Linked DNA regions of Homo sapiens: region 2 is linked to region 1. The links come from fine-mapping of genetic effects on gene expression. A gene starts in region 1. The other region holds a variant in brackets. All regions are shown on one strand. Distances are between the middles of the regions. Region 1 holds the start of LINC01559 (long intergenic non-protein coding RNA 1559). Region 2 has its middle 130 kb from the start of LINC01559.

Region 1 (12,238 bases):
AGCCCTATTGCTTCAGGCCAGGTCCTTGGGACAGTAGGCAAAGCCAGGCAAACCTGGATTTTATTTCTGATCCAGCTGTGTGACCTGGCTAAATTAATTTCCCAGTTGCTTCATCAGCAGATATGAGATTATAATTTTTTTATCATTTTAATTGACACAAAATAATTGAGCATATCTATGGGGTACAGAGTGATATTTTAATACATGTATTCAATGTGTAATGATCAAATCAAGGTCCTTAGCATATCCATCACCTCAAATATTTATTATTTTGTTGTGTTGGGAACATTCAGAATCCTCTTTGAAAATATACAATATTTGAAAATATACAATAATATACAATAAGTAGACAATAAATAATCATTAACTGTAGTCACCTACCCTGCTTTAGAACACTGGAATTCACTCTTCCCATCTTTCTAGCTGTAATTTGTATCCGTTAACTCTCTTTTCCCTATGACCCTTGCCCCTCTACCCTTCCCAGCCTCTAGTAGCCTCTATTTTACTCTCTACTTCTATGAGAGTAACTTTTTAAATTTTCCCATATATGAAAGAGGACATGTGGCATTTGTGTTTCCGTTCCTGACTTTTTTCACTTAACGTAATGTCCTCCAGGCTCATCCATGCTGCCATGAATGACAAGATTTCATTCTTTTTTTTTTTTATGGCTGTATAGTATTGTGTTGCGTCTATATACCACATTTTCTTTATCCATTCATCTGCTAATGAACATTTAGGTTGATTCCAGATTATAATGTTTATACTGTGAATCATACATACTTTATGTACAATGTGTAGCATAGACAATTCCTCATAATAGAAGCTCAACAAATGTTGGTACTATACCATTGCCTTTCCTGCTCTCCTTTTCTCACTCCTCCCCAGGTACAGAGATAACAGAGGTAACTAAAATACAATCCTTGTTCTTGAGGGGCCAATCTAGTGGGGAAATACATTTGTAAGGAGAGATACTCCAATGAAATTTGGTGTCTCCAGAGAAGAATGCACAACCTGCCATGAGAAACCAGAGGAGGAAGCAGCTGATATTCTAATAAAATTAAAGCTGGAGACATTTTAAAAGTAGTATAGCTCAGCTTCCTCTTTTACAGATGAGAGAATCCAGGTCCAGATAAGTCATGTGACTTATTCAAGGTCATGGCACATTTGTGGCAGAGCTGGGTATAAAGCTCAGAACTCGATTTCCAGCTTCTTGCTTTGTCACACAGAATATGCAACAGGGATTGAAACAGGAAGGAATAAAGATTTTGCATCAAACAGGACACAAAGCTGGAATGAGAGTAGCTGCATCTAGATGCTGGAAGAGAGTCCTGGAGCTGCAGAAATCCAGGGATGGCCTGGTGCAGGCAGAGCCTTGTGTCTGCTCTGTAATTGGGAGCTTGAGTCCAGTTCATGCTCTGACAGTCCCCATACCCTTTCAGAAAGTAGGTTTTCTGTCCCAGAAGCCAAGCTTAAGAGGGAGTTCTGCAGGACAATTCATTGTAAGGAAGGACTTGGCTGAGGGAGAGAGCTAGGAGGAGGAACAAGTATGTCCTTGATGTTGGAAACCACCAGGAAAGGCATCGAGGACTTTGCCCATGCCAGGGAGCTTGCAGTGTGAGATAAAACTGTGTTTGAATCTGAGGCGGGAGCATCATTTTCCTGTGATCCAAATTAAAGCTTTGGAGGATGCTGCTTTTTAGCAAATGTCTGGGAATTATCCAAGCCTAAGGAATTGTCTTCAGAGATCCTTACCAGGAACCTAAAGAAGCTCTCCCTCTCCCTCCTGCAACAGGAGAGCCCAGGGAGCTCTTGAGGCCAGAGGGTAGGAGGGGAGGCAGAAGTCTCTGTGGGTGTCTTCACAAGGGTGCAGGTGGCTTTCAGATTAGCCACAGAAATATACTGGTAGGTATATATATTTATGGGTTACATGGGATATTTTGATACAGGAATGCTATGTGTAATAATCACATCAGGGAAAATGGGGTGCCCATCACCTCAAGGATTTATCATTTGTTTAAGCCAGCATCTACTTTACAATTCCTCATCTCCCAAGGCTACATAATTACAGTGAGAACTTTAAGAAATCCACGTTTACGTGTGTTCTTTTGGCTTAAATCCCCTTCCTCAGCAAAAAGGCAAAGAGGGCACAGCTGTTTGCCTTCAGCACTCTCCTCTCTATATCCAACCACATTTAGGGCAGCTTTCCATGGCTTTTAAAATTCCTTTCTCTTTTCGGTCTGCTCCTTTATATCCTCATTGCCGTATAGAAATAAATATGAGGCAGAGTCCTATGCTTTTACAATTCCAAGGAAACCTACAGAGCGAGGCTGTGGAAACTGATTTTCCACTTTACCGGGGCATTATCCAACATGTTGGGTGCAAACGGGCACCTTTTAGCCTTTTCTTAAATTTGCATGACCTGTAATGTCTATACAGATTATGAATGAGCCTGAGGAGTCTGCATGTCTAACTTGTCATCAGCCTGGAAAAATCAAAATGTGTAGGTAAAGTGAGCACAAGATTTGGAAAAGCAAGGTGTTTGGATGTAAGAGAATAAACTCTTAGCCCTTTTGAGCATGAGTTCCTCAGCTGCAGAACAGGATTGAGAATCCTCACCTGAATTGGCCACTCTGAAAGTGAAAGCTAGCTAGATAAAAGTGCTTTGAAAAGGTAAAGAAAGGTGATGATTTAAAGCTGGTTAATGCTGAATTATGGAGGAGCTCTTTGGAAATTCTTTTTTATCTATATAAATGACAGAAATTTAGTGTGATCCATGTGGCTAGCACCTGTCACATGTCGTCTGCTGGCATTGATGCCTCACATCTTCCTCAATTTTCTGCTTCTTTTTCTCAATTAAAGCCGTCTGTCCACTCTTCAGCCTCTGAATCCTCCAAGCAATTCTTTCCTCTAGTCTTAGTGGATTTCCCAGGGGAGGAGCTCGTGCAATCCAGCAGAATGTGTCTACGAGCGCTCTGACTCTTCCAGGGAACGATTCCTCATTCCCAAATCTGTTGCTAGAGATAAGCAAGAGATTATACATTCCTGAGACCTGGGCATTACTTGAGTATCTAGGGGAAAATCAAGAATACTAAGGGGAAAAGGAGAGAAGGACAAGAGCAGCACATTTTATTTGCATCAGGCAAAATTGGGAAGTTGCAGAGAAAATGTTGCCCTTTGACTGCATGGAGGAAGACGGAACATCAATATGAAAATGGCGCTAAAGAGGCATGGGCTTTTCATGGTGTTTTCTTACTTCAGCTGCTATTGTTCAAAGAAGGTCAGTGGATCTCAGACATTTGAAGGTGGCACCTCTCCCATGAGAGTAAGAGCCCAGCTGACATAGGCCACTGGCTACATGGACCACTACTGGGGGCTCTTAACATCACAGCACCTGTTTCCTCATCTGGAAAACAAGGGGCTGTAACTACATCTGTGGCTTCCAACTCTCCCCTACTGGGAAGAGAGAGCTTCGTCAAACCTCAACCCTCTCCCCCTAGCTCCTGTATCTTTTCTCTAGTTATTTTGTCTCTGTCATCTTAGTCTCCTCGGTGCTCTCTGCTACCTGACTGCAGCAGGATGACTTGTCCCACCCATCTGTCCCATGGAGCCAGTCCTGAGCCTAGATTGAGTGGGTCCTCACCTCCATTGTGTGATATAGGCTGTATGTGTGTGTGCATGTGTGTGTTGGGGGAGGCTGAAATGACTTCTTTCCCTAAATGTCTCTCCCATGCCAAAAGTTTTTCCATTGATTATTTATTTTTATCTCTTTATAAGACAATTTTTTAAAATATCAGAAACAGCAGGAGCAATCATATGGGTCTAATCAGTCATTGACGCTTTCGAGTCTATAAATCTTTCCTTGTAGCAGGTTCTGAGGAAGGTAGGGGGAGATTGAAGGAAAACAACCCCTTCATATTTTAGTCCAAAGCTGTTGTTCATAGGTTATTCATCTGGTGGCCCAGGTGCTGACACAGTGACGTGCTTTCATGCCAGTTCCACAGCCAAATTGCAACCATGTGGAAGCTGGAAGCGTCTTGTCATCTCAGAATTGGGCACATCCAGTGGGGTAAAATCTGAAGCCAGAGGGGCAGAACTAAGCTCACAGCATCTGTTTACTGAGTTTGGGATTAGAAGAATTTTGATTTAAATGTGCACTATCAGTAGTTGCTTGATGAAAACAATACCCAGCATTTTGTGTTTTTACTGTCCCTAAGGCAACTCTGGTCCAATGAAAGTGAGAGTCTAAAAATCCCAGGATTATAGGTAATAGGACCTACCCTTCCATATCTGTGCAGTTTATATGAGTAGAACATGATTTTAATTTTCTATTGCCCTCATCCTTGCTCTTATATCCAAATACCCAGTAGCATGATCAGGAGCAAGGGAACTAATTTTCAAATATTAGCAAAGTTATTCAAGGGAATGGACTTTCTGTGGCTGCAGTTGGCACGTCTTTTTCAGAAAGCTTGCCCGTGGCTGACAGCCTGCTTGGCACAGTTCCTCCGGAGTCCTTTGGTGATGGAGAACAGGGCTGACAGGATTCAAATGGCCAGATTCCACAGAGGCCAAGGAGGGCCACAGTCTGCAAACCAGGGGAGATTGAGGCCTGAGAAGGGCATCAGCTGATGGAAATATTCACTCTAGGAAAACGAGGTGTAGCCAAAGAGAGTCATTTAGGAGAAGCAGATTGAAAGCAGCTGTGAAAAATCCTGAAATGAGGATATGGAATAGTGCTGGCCACCTCCGCATATGCCCACATGGAAACACACTTAATCAGCAGAGCTGGGCCTATGTGGAGATGCTGAGCCGGAGGCTCCTAGGTGTTAAGCACTTTTCTATGTGTAATGTGGTGGAAACCACCCTAGACTTTTCAGCGCACCCAAAGCAATAGAATTTTAACTGGGAGGGAATTATCCAGCCAGGGACTAGTTTCTGGCTTCTTTTGGAACTCAGTGTGGTTGTATGGCTAAGCTCTCACCAACAGAATGTGAGTGGAAGTGATGTGAGCCACTCTCAGACCTGACCATGAAACTTGGCTCATAGGCTCCTCCATACCACCCCACCTCCGCCCCACCTTCCTGCTTGGCTGGAATACAAACCTTGCAGTAACCTTGTGAGCAACGTGCTGAAAATAATAGAACTAGCATCTCCTGGGTTCCTTGAAGGATGCTTGGAGTAGAAGGCCCACCACCTGGCCTGTTCTAGACTATTTACATGAAAGAGAAAAAACCTTTTACTCTTCTCAAGGCATTGCATTTTGGGTCTTCCAATTGGCACAGTTTAGACCATGTTAACTAGTATATACAATAACTGGGCAAAGTAGGTGATGTCATCATTTTATAGGCTAAGAACCTGCAGCTCTGGGAATTTAAGAGATTTATTTATTTACCCAATATCAGGATACGAATGTGGAGTCATTATTTGAACTGAAGTCTGTCAGTTTAAACATTTATCTCCCAGAAGTTCAGACCTCCAGAGCAAACAGGTAGCAACAGATGACTTGAATGAGAGAGGGATCTCTGATTTGGCTACCATGTCCACTAACTCAAGCCCAAACTCATACCACCTCTTTCCACAGCTCCAGCTGCTGCACTGCTGAACTTGATCTTCATGCTGGAAGAATATGACAGCTGGAATGGGTCCTAATAATCACCCAGCTCAGTGGTTTTCAAATTTCATTTGGCAGAAGAAACACTTCTAATGAAATCTAAAACTCAGAAGCCCTGTGTGTAAAACAGTCCAAAGCAGACCTTGTCTCTTTGAAGTGTGGGCCTGGAACCTGGCCTGTTTCCCACTCACCTCCACAGCCTCTGAGTCCCTCCAAGCAGGTCAGAGAACAACTGATCTGGGTCAGCCCTTCGTTTCAGAGGTAAGTAAATAGTGGAGCATGAAGTGTCTTCATCAGGAACACACAGAAGGTAAAAGGCAGGGTGGGAACAGGAACCCAGCCTTCTGGCTTTTGAATTTAGGAATCTTTCCATTGTACTGGTGTATTAGAGTTCTGTAGAGAAACAGAACCAATAGGAGATTAGATAGATATAATACAATGAATATACCATAATTATACAAATAATAAAGGATTGGCTCACATGAATTTGGAGGCTGAGAAGTTCCATGATATGCCATCTGCAAGCTGGAGGCCCAGGAAAGCTGGTGCCTCCAGTCCAAACCCAAAGGCTTGAGAATCAGGAGTTCTGATGTCCAAGATCAGGAGAAAGATGAATATCCCAGCTCAAGCAGCCAACAAATTTGCCCTTCCTCTTCCTTTTAGTTCTATTCAAGTCTGCAATGGATTGAATGAGGCCCACCCACATTGGTGAGGATGATCTCTTTACTAAGCACATTGATTCAAATGCTAATCTCTTTTGGAAACACCCTCACAGCCACACCTAGAAATAATGTTTTACCAGGTACCTGGGCTTCCCTTAGCCCAGTCAAGTTGACACAAAAGATTAACCATCACAACTGGATTTCCTCTTTTGAGATACCAGCCCTTGAACCAGCTGCAGATTCAAGATGCCCAGCAAAGGCAGAATGGCAGAAGGGTCAGAGTTACTTGTTATATTAACATTTTGATTTCTGTGTAACAAATAACTGTTAAGCACGTGTTTAATTGAGAAGACAACCCAAGCAGGCTAAGTGTGAGCAACAAGGCTTGTTTATTCACTTGGGTGTGAGCCGGCTGAGTCCGAAAAGAGAGTCAGCATTGAGGAATGAGGAAGAGGGGGTTTTATAGGCTGGGGTAGCAAGTGGAAAGTTACAGAAGGTTACAGCTGGGGGTTGGTCGTTATAGATTTGGAGGGATGGTTAACCGGCTGGAACAGGAACTTGCTGTTTTTCTTCTTTGCGGTCATTCTTTTGTTGCTTTGGGCCTCTTTGTTCCAGGGAGCTATCTGGAGGTATACGTGCTAGTCACAGAGTTCACTTCTGGAGGTGTACATGTTGGTCACAGAGTTCATAATGGCCTGGCGATAGTGCAGCCACACTTAGGGAGCCTAACAATTACCACAAACATCATGGCTAAAACAACACCTACTTATTATGATCTCAGATGTCTGTAGTCTGGGTGGGCTCATGCTGGGTTCTTTGCTCAGTGTCTCACAGGGCTGAAATCAAGGTGTTGGCTGAGCTAGGTTATAGTCTGGAGGCTCCGGGAAGAATCCACTTCCAAGCTTATTCAAGTTGTTAGCAGAGTTCAGTTCAGTTCCTTGTGGTTGAAGGACTGCAATTCCTGATTTTTGCTGGTTATTGACTCTTGGTCACTCCTGGCTTCTGGACACTGCTCTCTTGAGGTCATTCCCTATAACTCCCTCCATGCTACCAATAGAGAACCTCTTTCTCATCAAATCCCTCTCATATTTTATTTATCTCTCACTTCCCCTTCTGCCACTAGCTAAAGAAAGCTCTATAGCTTGTTAGGTTACACCCATCTGGACAATCTCCCTATTGCAAAGTCAACTGATTAGTAACCTTAATTACACCTGCAAATCCCTTTTGACATGCAGTATAGCATAATCATAGGAATGACATCATAGGGTTAACGGCATGGGGGCCTGCTTAGAAATCTGCCTACCACATTTGCATAGTTACAACTAACTCTAGAACACACCACCTTCTCTTGAGGCCTCTGAGAACAATGGTAACATGGTTCTCTCCTATGACCTCCTAACAGCTTTTGCCAAATTCTTTCTGCTAGCTTCTGGGTAGGATAAAACAGCCTGATTATGCATTATTTCTAATTTAACATGGTTTGTGAGGCAAAGCAGGTATTAGACTCTGTAGGGTGTGTTCCCAGCCTTAGCCCTCCCTACAGCCTATTTCTGTCCACACATAGGAAGGCAGGAGGCAGGCCTGAAATCCTGGGGCTATCAGAAAAGGTGGGGCGGCAGCGGGGAGTTCTCTGTTCCTCTGGTGGCACTCACAAAACGACGATCAGAATAATCTTCTCCCTTTGTAGATGACTCCAGAGGGGAGACAGGATTTAACCAAAGCTAACTAGCAGAACTAGTTGGAGCTCTTAGTTTGGTGTTCTTTCTGCTACTCACAGTCAATACTAGAGTCAGCTGGTTTCTCTGTTGATTCTTTGCCCTGGCTTCTAGGTGATCTCAGAAAAGCCTTCCACAGTGTCTTCAGTTTGTTTCCTGACCCTGGCCCAGCAGGTAGGATTGCTGGCTATGTTATCTAGGCCTAGGAAGCATAAGAAATTGCCTAGTTAAGGCATCATGCTGACAGAGTCTGACAGAGTACCCCAGAGAAGCTGCCTCCCACTAGCTATAGAAGACAACAGAGGTAAGAAGACAGGCAGGGCTTGAAAAGATGTTGGAGAGCAGCAAGTGGTATGGTTAAGTTCCCTGGTTTCTGTTTTTTTGGTGTGTGTGTGTGTGTGTGTGTGTGTGTGTGTGTGTGTGTGTGTGTGAAAATGGGTTTGGCTTTGCAATGTGGATCCCAAGGTCAGATCAAGGTCTGTATGTGAGACTGGAGGCTCCAAGGCTTGTGGGAGGTTTCTGGGGGCAGGACCTGAAAAGGCAGGTAGATAAGAGAGAGGATATTTTATGCTTTATGGAATATTTGCATATACGTTATCTGATTATTTTTTCAGAAGTGAGAATTAAAACAATAAAGGATAAAAGAAATAACGTGACACATAGAGCAGCCTGGTGGTCTTGAGGTTGATGCAGAACCAATTTTTTGAGTAAATCCCACCTCCCTGCATTTCCTCTGACCAACTAAGGGGCTGGTTAAGAATCTTTGCAATTACTTCTATTCCAGTGAGTCCTGGAAAATATATGCTGGCCTCTAGTGAGGGATACCTGCTACCAGTGATATCCCAGTTTTGCTGATGAGGAATTTGTTTCTAATAAGTCAGATCTCTCTGGAGATAGAGACATAAACCACAAGAAGGGGGCCACATGTAGAACTTTCCCCAGGGTCTCTTGAATTGTGTAAGGTCAGCATTGGCAACACCCTCACCCGACTAAATAACTCTGCAAGGTCCATATCTCAAACTTTCTCTTCTCCAAAAAGAATATCTTGGAGGGAAAACGTGCTGGAGAGATGGAAATGGGCCAGGACTCTAGGGCAGATGCTGGAGGAGGTGGCTGCACTGGCAATCTCTCTGAATCAGATGCTCTGAATATTCCTTTGAGTTTGGGTTGCTGGGTAGAGTAGAGGTAAAAGCAGAATTTACAGGTACAGGTTTGGGAGAGGGTAAATCACCAGAGGATGTCCAGACCTAGGGAGGCTCTTTTTGCAGCAGAGAAAGTCTCCAGATTTTTGGCTGGAGGCCATCCCAGGCCCACTGTTTTCTCTGTGAAGTCCAATATCTGGCCATTGGGCTGGCCTTCTGGAGAGGCCTTCTGGCTTAATCCAGACCTAGGGCACCCCAGTCAGAGACAGTGGGAGGCCTCTGGTGTTGTCAGGGATCTTCACTGCCAGCTTCAGTCTTCTCTCCCAGCTCTTCTGTTCCCTTCGAATGGATGCAGTTTATAATGGGCCTATTAGAGCCCTAATTGAATGGTTAACACACCAGCCATTAGCAGCTGCTAATGAGGGAATCCAGGGGATTACGGTATCAATTACCAAGTTTGACTTCTGAATGTGGCTCTGCCAACAGTGGGTTCTTATGAGAGTCTTTAGAAAGCGTGACAGAGAGGGGGAAGAGAGCCATGCACACACAGTGTGACTGTGCCCTGCCTGTACCCAAGATAAGCTCTTACAGCTGTCCACACTCATGTGACTGCACAAAACAGGTTCTGGGGCAGTTTATCCACCCATGATGGAGATAGCATTCATCCCAAACACCTGCACACCTCTCTCCCAGGTCTTTTTACCCTCCATACAACACATGTGCTTCTTTGCCCCACAGCCATTTTCTCCTTCTCTGCTCCACTGCCTTCTATAATCCATGCTAGCTTGTCTTTGGCCTTCTTTCACACTTTCAATCGAGATCATTCTCAAGTTTCCCACTGCCCACATCCTATCAGTCACTGAGCCCTTGGAATCCCATCTTTTAAACATCTCTTAATTTCATCTCTTCCTTTCCCTTTCCTTCCTTCCCTTCCCTTATTTTCTCTTCCCTTCCATTCCCTTTCCTTTCTCCATTTCTTCTTACTTTCCTTTCTTTCTTCTTCCTTGCCCTGCCTTTCTTTCCCTTCCCTCCCTCCCTTCCTCTCTTGTTTCCTTCCTTCTTTACTACGATTGCCTTGGTTCAAGCTCTTGCCATCACCATGGCAATAGCTCCAGGAGAGTCAGAAACCTGGTCTCTCCGTCTCTAGTTCGTCTCCTTTCCCATGTCCAAATAACCCTCCATGTCTTTTTAAAAGGCAAATTTGATTGTCACTCCTTAAAGCCCTTCAGTGATCCCTATTGCTCACAGGATAAAGCATAAGTTCCTAAGCATGGCACGATAGGGGGCCCATGATCTCCATCCTCCCTCCATCTCCACCTCATATTCCACCATTCTCTGCTTTTCAGACTGAGCTGAAGCTGTAGTGATCTGCCTGCCCCTCTTCCAAAGGTCTAAGCTGTTGGGCGCACCTCTCACTTAGCACATGCAGCTATGTCTGCCCGCTGTGCCCCTGCTCTCTTCATCTGTGAAACTCCTACTTATCTTTTAAACCTCATGTATGAAGTCTTCCTAACTCATTCCTCTTACTCATGTGCCTTATATGTATTTCTCTCACTGTACCTATTTATACTAGACTTATATGATTCATTTGTCTCTCTTGCTGTTCTGTGAAGTAATATACTATATCAATGTTTATTTTTGAAAGCCCATTGTCTAGTGCAGTGCCTGGTACATCATACACATTCAATAAGCTACTACTACTCTAGTGTGTGTTTAATTGGTGGATTAGAAAATTGGTGATGGTTTTCACAACTCATTTCATGGATCTATATTGACATGTATTTTATTATTCTATGAGGGACTGTTAGTTGTTCACAGTCTAATTCTTTTGGACTCAAAGAGAACTGTAAAGCAATACAGTTCTCTTTGGGTCCAGAGAACTCCCAACCCTCTGCCCCAGTAGCTCAGTGCACAGGCTTGGGGTCTGTGAATACTCTTTGAATTGAATTTAAGTTCACAAGTGTTTATTGAGCTCCCTGTTCTGCTTAGACCCTAGAAGGAGGTACTTGGGAAAAATATCAGAGATTTAAGAGTTGTACTTATCTTTAAGGTCCTTCCAATTATTTTACCACCTAACTGTGCATAATCATGGACAAATACACGAGTTCTGTGCTCCTCAATGGTATCAGGATATCAATTGTGAAAGGGTGCTTTGCAACCCTAAGGGGATTCAGTGTAATAATGATAACAGCTATGGTCCATTTACCGCCTACCATGGCCATAACTGTGCTGAATGCTTTGGTCTGTGATTTACCTGTACACCTGTGATTTGACTGTCACAACTACCTCGGGTGGTGTGTAGTCTTATGCCCAGGTTACATATGAGAAAACTAAATCCTACGGAAACTGTTAAGAGGCAGAGCCAGGACTTACACCAAAGTCGACCTGCTGCTAAAGCTCTAGGCTGTCATCCCATGGTGATCTACTGCTCTATCACTCCGTGTGGTAAATATCAATCAATCACTCCATCTGGGAGGGAAGCTCTGTCCACTCCTGTCCTTCCTCTCCATCTGTTAACACTTTGCAATCCTGCTGATGGTCCACACATCAAAGCCTGTCAACTTGGACAAAATGAGATTAAAAAGCAGATATTAAACAATTGCCTAAAGTCAGAAGCTTTGTTTCAGCCTACAACTCATTTAGGTTAGGGACTTTCTGTATTGAATTACAGAGTCTCAAAATGAAGAGATTCAAGCTTCATGAGGGAAGAGACTGTTGTTCCCTGCTGTCTTCCCCACATCTAGCAAATTCCTGGCACATAAAGAATACCATGAATGGTAGAAACAGAAATGTTACTCTCTTGAAACATACCTATACCAGGGATAACTTCTCCTCTATAAACCCAATGAGAAAATCCATAGCAGAGTCTATGTGACCTTCAGAGTCAGAGGCCAGGAGCTGCCTGCTTCCCCAAGCAGCCTCTATATAAATCAGAAAAGTATCTAAGACAGGTCTCAATTTTGAGGTTTATTTTGTGAAGGTTGAGGACATGCTCAGGCAAAAGAGACACAAGCCACAGTAGGATCTGTGGCCCACACTTTTTTCAGAGCAGGTTTTGAGGGCTTCTGTTTTAAAGTGGAAAAAGTGAGCAAGAGGGAAAAGAGGAAAGAG
Region 2 (12,238 bases), 130 kb after region 1:
GTACCGTAATTTTGAGTCTCTCATCAGTCACGTGGACTGGTTACATCTTTGTCTCCCCTTCAGAACACCCTGGAGCCTGTACCTCCCTCAGAGTGTCTTTCCTGGCTGCCTTGCCACTACTCGAAGCATTCCCAGACTGCAGTGCTGGGACCCACAGTTGCACAGTCAGGGACACGCTCTCCACAAGTGACACTAAAGGAGCGAGGAAGAATTTTTGCATCTTGTTGAGCTCCACTTCCTCCTCAGGCAAATGACTTGGCAAATCATTCTCTTTTTCTTCTCAGATGTTTCCTCTCTTTTTCACAGAAGGTGAACAAAATGCTCTCCTCCTTGCCTCACTAGAGAATAACCTGCCATTTCCAGTTAGGACTGATAGTGAAGGCTGTGAGGTGGAGTGCTGCGGGCACTCAGTCCAGGCGCGTCCCTGGCTCTCTTTCCTTGCCGTTTCTGCAGTCTGACCTTGGCCCTTTGAGCCTGTGCTGGGGTGGAGATGCTACTCCTTGAGGAGGTGAACTGTCAGCTATGTGATGTCCTCCCACCCTAGTGTTACCTGGAATGACCAGACACCAGAAATAAAACTGGAAATACAGCAGTGTGTGGCCTCCCAAACGAACAGGCCACTGCTCTCCCTGCTTCCCTGAGGCTTCGGGGCTGGAACTCAGAGCTCAGGTTCACACCTCACTCTAATGGGAACACATTGTCAGGGGCTTCTCACAGAGGGGAGCCTGCTGAGAGAAGGCTGCAGGCAAGGAACTCTCAGCCGTGCAGCCACATAGCCTGCACAGGCCAGGCTGGGCTGCCCACCCCTCCCCATGCTCCCCATCCATGGCTGGGCTATGGTGAGCTTCCTTCAAACCTGCTCAGCCTTGGCAGGCTCTGCTCAGAGACAGAATACTCTGTAAGGAGGGTGGCAGTGGGGGTTGGTGGAAGAGGACAGGGAATGGCTAAAAGGGCCAGTGGGAAGCCGGGAGCTCAGAGCCTTTCAGAAAGGAAACGAGAGTCCGTAAGCCAGGGTTTGGAAGAATTGGGAGACATTTGAATCCTCCCTCAATGTGAAGGCCATGCTTTTCTGTGAGGTGAAAGATGCTGGACCAGAGGCTCTAGTCTCCCGATGTGGGAGGTTGTGGTGATGTCGGGGTCACTTCTCTGCCAGGAACCTGTGTGTGCTTACCAGGATCTGGCTAAACAGGAGGAAAAATAGGAAGATCTAAAAGAGAGGCAATAGGTTAGCAATATTAATCTGTTGAAGGGAAAGAAGAGGCTAATACTGAATGATGACAGCCAGTTTCTCCAATAATACTGGTGGCATGGAACTCAGGGACTGTGTGTAACCAACATACTGCTTAGTCATAACAGATGTAGCACAGATACCTAACCATCTTATAGACAGAAAATCTGATCACCCCGGAAGTTAAAATCACACCATAACGACAGAGCCCAAGGAGATATCCTTGTTCTCCTCAATTCTAGACCAGAGCCATGTTGACTGTCTGCTCTGCACCTCTGGCTGGGTAGAGAGATGAGCAGAGGGAGTCTGGGAAGGCAGGTAAGCAGAGATCAGAGAAATGGAAGCTCAGTCTGTGGAAGGAGCCAGGGAAGAAGTTGCCAGGACCACAGTTGCCAGGAATCAATGACAAGGAGGAGGTATATTTGAGAACCGATCACGTCAGTGTCGTTAGTGTCTCCCCGAAATTCATCTCCACCTGAACCTCTGTATGTGACCTTTGCAGACATAATCACATTAGCATACAGTAGGTACCAAGAGATCGACACCACCCTGGCTAACACGGTGAAACCCCGTCTCTACTAAAAATACAAAAAATTAGCCGGGTATGGTGGCAGGCGCCTGTAGTCCCAGCTACTCGGGAGGCCGAGGCAGGAGAATGGCGTGAACCCGGGAGGCGGAGCTTGCAGTGAGCTGAGATTGTGCCACTGCACTCCAGCCTGGGTGACAGAGCAAGACTCCGTCTCCAAAAAAAAAAAAAAAAAAGATACGGTAGGTACCAAATGCTATACAACTGGTATCATTTTAAGAGTAGGGCAGTTTGGACACAGAGACACAGACACAGGAAGAGAACATCACATGAAGAGAGAGGCAGAAATTGGAGTGATGCAGCTTCGAGGGAAGGAGAGCCCTGGATGCAGGCAACCACCGGAAACTGAAAGAGCCAAGCGAGGATTCTTCCCTAGCACCCTTGAAGGAGCATGGCCCTGCTGACTCTGTGCCTTTGGAATTGTGGCCTCCAGAACTGCAAGGGAGTAAATTTGTGTTGTGTTAAGCCACCAGGTTTGTGATCCTTTGTTACAGCTGTCCAGGGAAACAAATACTCCTGGGATCAGGGCCGCACCTCAGAATCCAGGTCAGTGCTTTCTGCAAGGTGGACGAAGGTGCCCATGCTTCCTCCACTCTTCCTCTGGAGTAAAGTGGGCCCTGGGTGATCTTATTTGAGACTGATTTCTCTGGGTGTGGCGCAGAACCACTTCAGCTGTCCCTGCTGTTCTGAAGCTTCTGTTTTAACTGAGGGACTGCAGAGGCTGGTAAGTCAATAGTGCTTTCTCCAGGGATCACAGACAGGCCTTCCTAGTCACAGCTTAGCTCATTCCCACCTCAATACAGCACATCCTGCAAATGAGGAAAAACTGAGAGGCACCTGCACAATTTACCATGTGTCTTAGCTGGATCCTTACTGAGTTCTATACCTTATTTCCCATGGAGACTCACACAGATGCAACTTCTAAACAGTGGGGCCACACTCCTGCATTTGGACACCCATTTCCTTCCTCAGATCATAGTGGTCCTCCTTTCCCCTGGCACCGATACTAACTTATATAACTGCTTCTTCACACCTTATGTATTAGCTATATATTGCTGAATAACAACATTATTCCAGAATTTGTCAGCTTAAATAACATTTATTATCTCACAGTTTCTGAGGGTCAGGAATCCAGAAGTGTCTTAGCTAAGTGCTTCTGACTAATCAAGTTTTCGGCCAGGCTGCAATCATTTCTAGGCTTGACTGGGGCTGGAAAATCTGCTTCTGAGCTCCCTCACATGGTTGTCAGCAGACCTCAGATCCTCACTAGCTATTGGCTGCAGATTGCAGCTCCTCCTCAGGCTGGTGACTCCATAGGCTCCTGAATGTCCTTGTGATACAGCTTCTGGCTTCCCAAAGCCCACAATCTGAGCACACACAAGAGAACAACCTAGACAGAAGCCGCGGTCCATTGTAATCTACCTTGAGAGTGACATACCATAACTTCTGCCATTTGCTGTTGGTCCCAGACCAACTCTGCCACAAAATGGAACAGACTGCATGAGAGTATGACTGCCACAAAATGGAACAAACTGCATGAGAGTATGACTACCAGGAGGTGGGGATTTCAGAGGACCGTCTTGAAGAGACTACCACACCCTATTAGAATCAAGCATTTCTTGTCTTGACTGGTCATTTCCTTTTTCTGAGCATGGGGTAGCAGAGAGATCACTTATGGCCACAGCCCCCAGAGTCTGGGAACCTGACCAATTCTACTATTTAATCCTATCTGGGGGATCCAAATTTCCCCCTTTTCCTTTGGCCAACGGAGATACTGCACTATGGCTAGGAAAATAGTGGCACTTTGTTAATCCCTTCTTGGCCGAACTACCTAGATTCAAGTCTTGACTCCTTCACTTATTAGCTTTGTGATACTGGGCAAGGTTTTCAGCTTCTCTGTGCCTCAGTTTTATGTAAAATGGGGCTGAAACATGATACATTTCATAAGATTATTTTATGGCTTTAAGAGGTAAATATATATAAAATAAGTAGCGCAATGCAAGGGGTGCATAAATGAGAGCTATTATGATAACTGTTGGAATACATCCTAATTTAGAATACACAAAGGAAATAGATGGGGTGAAGGGGAGTGGTAAAGCAGTGAAAAGTCAGATTCTTTGTTAAATGTTCTGTGATTTATGGAGCTTCAGATTTTTTAATGTAACTGTTACTCCAAACAAATGTTCTTTCCCTCTTCTTCTACTTCTTCTCATGAATACAATGGTGTTAATTCCTGTGCCTCTTACAGTTCAAGCAAGAAAGACTGCCCAATTGTGGCCTAACCTGTGTGTCTATAATTTGGTGAGGGTGATATGCCCCAATATAGAGAGAACCATAATTCTGACCTTTCAACTAAATGGAATTAATTTTAAAAGGAAAAAAATTAAATACCAATAAAGTTAATAAACAATTTTGAATTAAGAAAGTAACACTCCTTTATTGAATTCATTATTTTAATATCCCTTTGCTGAGTTTGGAACAGTCACATCTGCCAAATTTCAACTAGGTCAGCACAAATGTTTTTATTTGTAAAATATTCATTAGTAAAAATAACTATACCCCATTGTTTAAAAACCCTTACCAAGTGGATTGGGTGCTGCTGGTTTATGGTCCTTGTCATCCACATTGTGAGATACCAGTTATTTGGGTCAATGGCTCCTAAGCCAGATAGCACCAAATACTTGGCTGGATATTTTCTCATTCATGTTTGCAAACCTAGAATTAGAAAGTGAGATGACCATATACAAAACTGTAGCAGCCAGATTTGACATTAAGAAAACAAAACTAAGCTTAACTCAAAAGGGCCCCCAAAACAGCAATGAACAAGAACTATTTGTCTATTCTTCCTCCTGTTGGTTGAGTCTGCACACCAGGATGCAACTAACAGTCCTCTTGAAAGAGCGCTGGAGAAATGCTCTGCCCTGCTGGTTAAGCAGACTGCTATGTCACAACTTGAGTTGAGTTTCCATCAGCATTTCAAGGTCAGCACCCATGATCATTCCTCAGTAGCCTGTTAGAACAAAGCACCCAGGGCTTCTCTTATCTCTGATGCCTATAGATCAAGACAGTTCTTGCTGGAAAGAATCCTTGGCTATCTCCATTTATTGTCCTCTCAGCCTCTGACAACCTAGAGAAGAATGCAGTGACTATTTCTCAGAAATGGACGGTGTGGGACAGGTGGTTCAGACAATTCATGGCCAAAAGATTCAGCATTCAGGCCAAAGAAACTGATAAAAAAAAAAAACAGGATTCTTTTCTAACCAGTTGTCTGAATTACTTACCCTTCTCTCTTCCAGAGGCCCTGCTGCCTGACAAAGAGAAATTCATAATGACAGTGGAAAATTGCCAAACTCAGCAAATTTCTCCAAGCAAATAATGATTCCAGTAAAGAGTGTTCAAGTTTGCTATAACAATAATGAAAATAATAATATTTTATACACTAAAGTGCTTCTCATCCCCTAGTCTGCTATTTAATATGTTAAGTTTATACATTTGCATATGCCTGTAGGAGAATGTGCACAGTGTATATTAAACACATAAAATACTTTGGTGAAACATTGTCAGTTGTTTGATTAATTTCCAAAATTTATTCATCTTGCCTACTTAAAAACTTTAATCCCGAATATTACATTAGCCTCTACCCAATCTTAACAATTTCTCCCATTCACATTTTTAGGATCGAAATTTTCATCTATTAACATCATATAGATGGCTAAGAAGTTAGGGGCATCTTTCTCTGAATGTGTAATTTCCTACTCAGAAAGCTAAAACAAAACCTGAGGAAGGGGAGGCAAATGAAACATTTTCTCATTTGGGATTGTGCCTGATTTCTATTATCTCTACCCAGCCTGTCTGAGGTCAGAAGCTCAGAAACTGGAACATCACACTAGCCTAGCCTGGCTTTATTCAAGTTTAGAAATGAAACACTAGAAATACAGGATTCTGCAGAGCTAAAGATTTCTGTAACCACAGTGACTCATAAACACAGCACAAGAAATGTATTTGATTTGGGTTTTGGCCTTTAAATGTGCCACTTTCATCTCTTTTTGGCCTCTCCTTACCACACAGTGTTCCACTTAGGATATCATAGCCAGAGCTGTAAAGCTCCCTAAAGTCTTTGAAGAGAAAGGCTGATTTTGTGCAAAGTAGAGCTGTTGTTTTATTAAGGATGCATGAGAAAATATAACTAGACTTCACAGAGTGACTAAGAAATGCTGCCGGTGGGCTGAATCTCAGCCATCACTGGCCCTTCTGAGATCTTTAATCTCTTCTGTGAAGATCAAGAGGGAAGTGTGTGTAGGGGAAAAGCAGAGCCAGGCCCAGTACCAGGAGAAGGGGAGAAGGAATTTTGGTGAGGAAATTCAGCTCAGCAAGCATTCATTGAGCTAGGTGCTAGAGATAAAACTTGATAAATTTCCTGCCACAAGAGGACATGCAAACAGGAAATTTCAATATAATGTGCTCAGAAATAGTGTAGAGATGTGCTAGGGGACCCTGGGAGAGCTGCGTGGGGTCACTGCAGTCACTATGGGGATTATAAAGGAAGGGTATCTGGACAATGGAAGGCTGAGCTAATAGCCAAGATGTACAGACAGGAAGACAGGTCTAGACAAAA[T/C]GGCAGCGTCTGAGAGAACAAGAAACTGCATGCTGTATGCTGGGGACTTTTAGCACTTGGTTAGCACGGGGGTAGTGCCAAAATGAGAATGCAGAGGTAAACAGGGCCAGGTCACAAGGGGCATTGCCTGCCATGCTGAAGAAATTAACCATTGTTCTGTTGGTAGCGTAAAAGCCACTGAAGGGTTGTCATTAAGGAAAAAATGGGGCCTGATCTGTGTTTTAGAGAGATCGTTTCACTAGCTATATATATTTAAGAGGCAAGACTGGAGGTAGAGAGGTGTGGCTTACAGGTGATTTCAAGAGCTTAAGAAAGAATGGCAAAGGCCTGACCTAGGACAGTAGTTCCAGGGAGAAGATAGACTAAGTTGGAGACATAAATCAATGGAACCTGATTAGTTATTTGTGGTATAGGAAGAAAGGGGAAAAGAGCAGGTTTCTAGAACAGTGGTTCTTAAAGTGTGATAGGTGGAGCAGCAGCAGCAACAACACATAGGAATGTATTAGAAATGCAAATTTGGGGGCAACCCCAGACCTTGTGAACCAGTTACTGAATCAGAAACACTGAGGCTGGAGTTCAGCAGTATGTGTGTTAACAAGCCCTGCTAGTTCTGATGCAAGCTCAAGTTTGAGAACCACTAGTCTAGGATAACTTCCAGGATTTTACCTTGGGTTCCTGGGTAAATGATGCTACCATTGGCTGAGATAGGGGATACTCTAAAAGGAACAGAGTGTTGTGAGGGTGAGAAGTCAGCAAGTTAAAGAAAGGAAGAGAAACAGGGTGATTTTCAGCAAAGAAAAACAAAAAGAATTGGAAGGAAAAAGTGACTCTCAGAGCCTTCTTGACGTGCGCAGTTGGCAGAGGAAAATTCTGAAAGCCCAATTCGCTGCTCTTGGGGTAACAGTGGAAGGGAGGTTGCAGTCTGAATAATGAGTCAGCAATTTTATCCCCCAAATCATTAAGAAAATCTCAGTTGCCCAAACTATTGATTGTAACCTGTACTGCTTTCCATAACAATACACAGTAGCCACAATTTGGCAGGATTTGATTGAGGTCCTCCTACCCTTGTGTGTCTGCGAAAGAATATGCGTAAACTCAGGACCCAGATCAAAACCTAAGCGGGCCGTGAGAATGATTAACACTACGTTCAACAGCAGAGATGGTGGAACTTGCAGATCATGGCAAAACTTGGCCAAGGGGTCAGAAAAGTCCCTCTCATAGGAACAAGATCCCCTGATTTCTCTTATCTCTACCCAGCCTGTCTGATGGGAGAAGTTCATGAACTAGAACATAGTAGCCTAACCTGGCTTTATTCAAGTTTAGAAATAAAACACTGGAAATACAGAATTCTGCAGAGCTGAAGATTCCTGCAGCCACAGTGACTCATAAACACAGCCAAAGAATTTTTTATTCTTTGCTTCTGAAATTATTTGCCCCTAAATTTGTTGGTCACTGTGCCAGAGTCAGAGATCAAAGTACAGCTAATGTCACCCAAGTGAATGCTTGGGTCAAGGTGGTGAGATGTCAGCCACAATGGAGGGGGATGGGCAGGGAGAAAGGATCATTCTTCTGCTGGATAGAGTGTCCTGGAGTGGGGTCAGAGATGGATAAAGTAAGCAAGGAGAGGAAAGGGACAAATCATGGGGGAGGTGGTAACAGAAGGGTTCTGCAGAAAGTTCTGCCTGGATCCAGCCCTGCATCACATAAAGAGAGATGAAATAGCATCCCCATCCTTGTGAAATAGAGTTACTTGCCCAGGACATTCAGGTCTGAAAATAGAAGATTTAATGCACCAAGGAGGCTAGTAACTCAGTAATGACAGAGGTATGGAAGCTTTTTCCTAACATGGTATCTGAAGATAAAAGCAGCTCAGAGTAGACACATATTTTAAGTGCTGTCCTCCTAATACAAATCCATCAGTTAGATGTGCTCTTTGACCGGCTTTTTAGCAGCAAGAATGGCTTGTACTGATGAATCCGCATGATCTGTGCCAACGTTCCCAAGCCTTTGGCTTCACAGCACCATGTTCCAACCAACTGTTCTTTTCTCTGCTCCAATTCATTCTACGTATCACTGCCAGATCGATTTTCTAAAGTAGGACCCACGACTTTGTTCTGCTCAAAACCAGCAATGGCTCCCTCTTGCCTGTAAAACTGAATATAAACTTTTCAACTTGACCAAGGTACCTCTAATTTCCATTATTAATTCCTGTCTTTCCCTCAAAGCCATGGTGCTTGTAGACCCAGCTACTCAGGAAGCTGAGGTGGGAGTATTGCTTGAGTCCAGGAGGTAAAGGCTGCAGTGATCCTTGATGGTGCCACTGAATTCCCGCCTAGGTGGAAAAAAAAAAAAAAAGACTCTCCTGGACAGAGGTTGGATATTTTAAAATTATACTTTCTTGATCCATTTGAGCAGTTTTAGAATAGAAAAGAAGGTACATATTAATGGAAGGAGGAGGAGGGTTCGAGGAGCTCTGATGAGCATTATGAGCAGCCTGTCCTAGGCACATGAGGCACATGAGGACTAGGCACATGAGGCACATGAGAACTTGGCACACAGGATGGGGAGGGACCAAGGAACCACAGGAGGGGACTTGGTAAGGGCCTGCGATTTTTGTCTGATACATATGCAGTCTGGCTTCTTGTAGAAAGATCCACTTCAGAATTCCCAGCTAGGGAATTCTGCCTCTATGAGGGGCTGAGGGGACCCTGCTCCCATCAACCCCATGTGTACTACTAATCAAACATCTGCTGTGGGCTCCCTAACACCTTCATAAGCAGGCTTTCAGGCTTTTAAAATTAAAATAAAGAATGAATATGGTAGCACCAAGAAGCTGTCAATAATTTTCTTGAGAACAGGCAAACTTTGAGTGCACCTGCCTTATCCCCAGGAGAACAGCTGCAGCATGGAGCTCCAGGAGGACAGCAAAGGATGTTCCCAGTTCCCATTCCTGGTAGAGTGCTTGGTCAAGTGGCTTAACCCACATGTGCTTCAGTGTCCTTATGTGTAAACTGGAGATAATAGACTAATAGTACAAGGTGCTGTTCTAGGTATTTTATACATATTATCTCATTTAATCTTTACAACAGTCTTGTGAGATAATATGTATAAAACACTCAGAAGAGCACCTTGTACTCAATAAGGCCTAAGTAAATGCATGCTGCTGCTATTAGTGGCAGATAAGGTAGGGTTCTAAAGTCAGCTTTCTTGGGTTCAGGTCACAGCTTTACCTTGCTGACCTTGGGCAATTACTTAACCTTCTCTCTATGACTCGGATTCTTCATCTGTAAAATGGGGATAAGCAATAATACTTTCCTCATAGGATTGCAGTGAAGATAAGTAAGTTAGTGCATTTTGAGCAGTGACTGGCATCATATGTTATCAAATATCAGCTACTATGCTAATTATCTTAGTCATCTCCCTATCCCCCCCCCCCCTTGCCCTCCCCTTGGCCGACGTAGTTTTTTAAACTTTGATTCTTAATATTTTAGGAAGTGCTAGGATTCCCTGGAGTCTTCCTTCCTGCAAGTTCATTCTATTTTATGTCTCGATTAGTGGGTCATAGATTTACAGTTGTTGTAAAACCTGGGTGCTTGGGTCTCAGCCCAGAGACACTGATTCAGTTCAATTGCAGTGGGGCTCCAGCACTGGTATTCTTTTTAAAGCTTCCCATATTATTCTAATGTGCATTTAGTATTCAGAACAACTTGTCCATACTGGTTTGAATCAAAAGAATATAAGGAGGAGTGTACACATACTAGACCACTCATCAAAAACCACCTAAGCCTTTTACTAAAGAAATGATCATAGAGCCTTGGTAAACCTTTCAAATTGATTTGGGAAGAACCTTGTGTTTGTGAAACTCTCAAAAGCATTTTGATGTGCATATGTGCTTGGCTTCAGCTCAGATACCTGTAGTGATACTTACTGTGGAGCCTTGCTCAGGTATTGTGGGTTGGGGGCGGGGCAGTGGCTACTATCTGGGGTCATTTGACATTGAATTTCAGCTATCATCTTTAAAAAATCACTTGAGTTATGAAGGGAAAGGAGACATAACTCAGCTCAGAGTGTCCCACCTGCTGGACCACACATATTTGGTGTTTCTTTTATATTCACAGGCAGCTTTCACAGTCATTGTAAAAGATTCTTTGATTCAGGCTGAAGATTTTGAACTTTATTCTGTAAGCTGTGGAAAACTTGTGAAGATTTAGGGCAGGAAAGCAATATGGTGACAAAAGAATTTCAAGAGTTCTGGTGGTGATGTGTAGAATGGATTGGATCAGGGAAAGAAAGAGGACAGGGAGTGTTATCAGAAGGCGATTGACGCAGTGCAGGTGAGAAGTGCTGGGAGAGAAGGGAGGACATGCGGTGGAATGAAGGACTGGGGTTCTATTAAGAGGTGAGGCTGGCCTTCTGAAGGGGTGGAAAATGATACCCCTTTAACCACATCACTGGCCCCTCATAGCTAAATTATGAAGCCCAAAAGCTATCTTAGCTCATTTCTTATTCAACAAGAAATTTACTTAATCTCTAGAATGTGCCAGTTGTAGGCACACGTGGTATAGTCAGTGGTGAATGGTCAGAAAAGCTTGGACAGAGCTCACTTTCTAGTGGGTAGGGGAGGAGAATATAATCACACAAAAAGAATACATTAAAGTGCCATGCAGAGGATTATACTGAAGTGAAATGATAGAGCATCTAATGCCTAATTTAGATGTAGCCACAAACTGCCTTACCACGAATGTGGCATTTAAGCTGAGATCTGAAGAAGAAGGAACCAGCCTTGTGATGATTGCTGCAACAGCATCCCAGGCAGAGGAGCAGCAAGGGCAAAGGTGGCCATGAGCTTGAAAATCTGAGAAACCAAAGGAAAGCTGGTGCAGGTAGAGGATACTGGGGGGAACAGTGGTCTTAGGTGAGGTTGGAGGGGGAGGCAGAGGCCAGATTACTTAGGGAATTCAAAGTCAGGCTAAGGACTTAGTGTATCCTTTATTCCAGATAGCATAAAAAACAGTGGGAGGAGTTTTCAAAGGGGTGTAACATGAAGTGATTTGTGCATTTAAAAATAACTGTGGCCACTCTGTGGTGAATAAACTGTAAGCAGGGCAAAAAGGGTAAGAATGATATTGACTTCTGTTAGGGTAGAAGCAGTAGAGATGCAGGATAGTGAGTTGGTTTGAATATATTTTGATGATGGAACTGAGAGGATTTGATGATGTTTTATATATTGTGGTGAATGATAGGGAGAAATCAAGGCTACTTTATGGATTTTTGGTGTGAGACACTAGGGGCTACTTACTGAAGAGGGAAAGTTTCAAAAGCAGCAGGGTAACGGGGATAGGTTATCTGTAGGTATCTTCCTATCATGTTATGTTTTAGATAATTATTAAACTTCCCAGTTGAAGGGTGAAATAAATGAATATACGTATTTGAATGTAAGCATCTAGGCTAGGGAAAAGTTCATGATAGCAATAAAAATTTAGAATAAAGTGGATATGGAATGTAGTTAATGCCACAAGACCGGATGTAGTCACCTGGAAGGAGTGTGTAGGTAGAATAGAGATGGGAGCCTGGCACCAAGGTCTTTGGCTTAGCAATATTTTGAATTGTAGAAGAGGAAATGTTGACACAGTTGTCTGTGAAGAAGTGACCAGTGAGGAAAGAGAAGGATCAGGGGAATAAGGTATCATGAAAGCCAAGAAAAGAAAGTATTTTGGGATGAAGAAAGTGATCAACTGTGTGGGATGCTGAGAGGGGGAGTAATATGAGAACAGACTATTGGATCTAGCAACATGAAAATCATCGGGCC

Evidence for each region.
Region 2: its variant is fine-mapped to the expression of LINC01559 in nasal epithelium (TOPMed, PIP above 0.99).

The regions. Positions count from the first base shown.
Region 1 is chr12:13,370,425-13,382,662 of GRCh38, forward strand. LINC01559 (long intergenic non-protein coding RNA 1559) reads right to left here and starts at 6,321. Exons shown (of 3, transcript NR_036555.1): 1 at 6,090-6,321; 2 at 5,800-6,001; 3 at 247-3,014. RefSeq lists an enhancer at 4,924-6,123.
Region 2 is chr12:13,498,474-13,510,711 of GRCh38, forward strand. No RefSeq gene overlaps it. Among named protein-coding and RNA genes, the nearest start is that of LINC01559, 130 kb to the left of the region's middle. RefSeq lists enhancers at 156-657, 658-1,157, 666-835, a cis regulatory region at 751 and a silencer at 2,989-3,189. The variant T/C (reference allele first, on the strand shown) is at 6,430.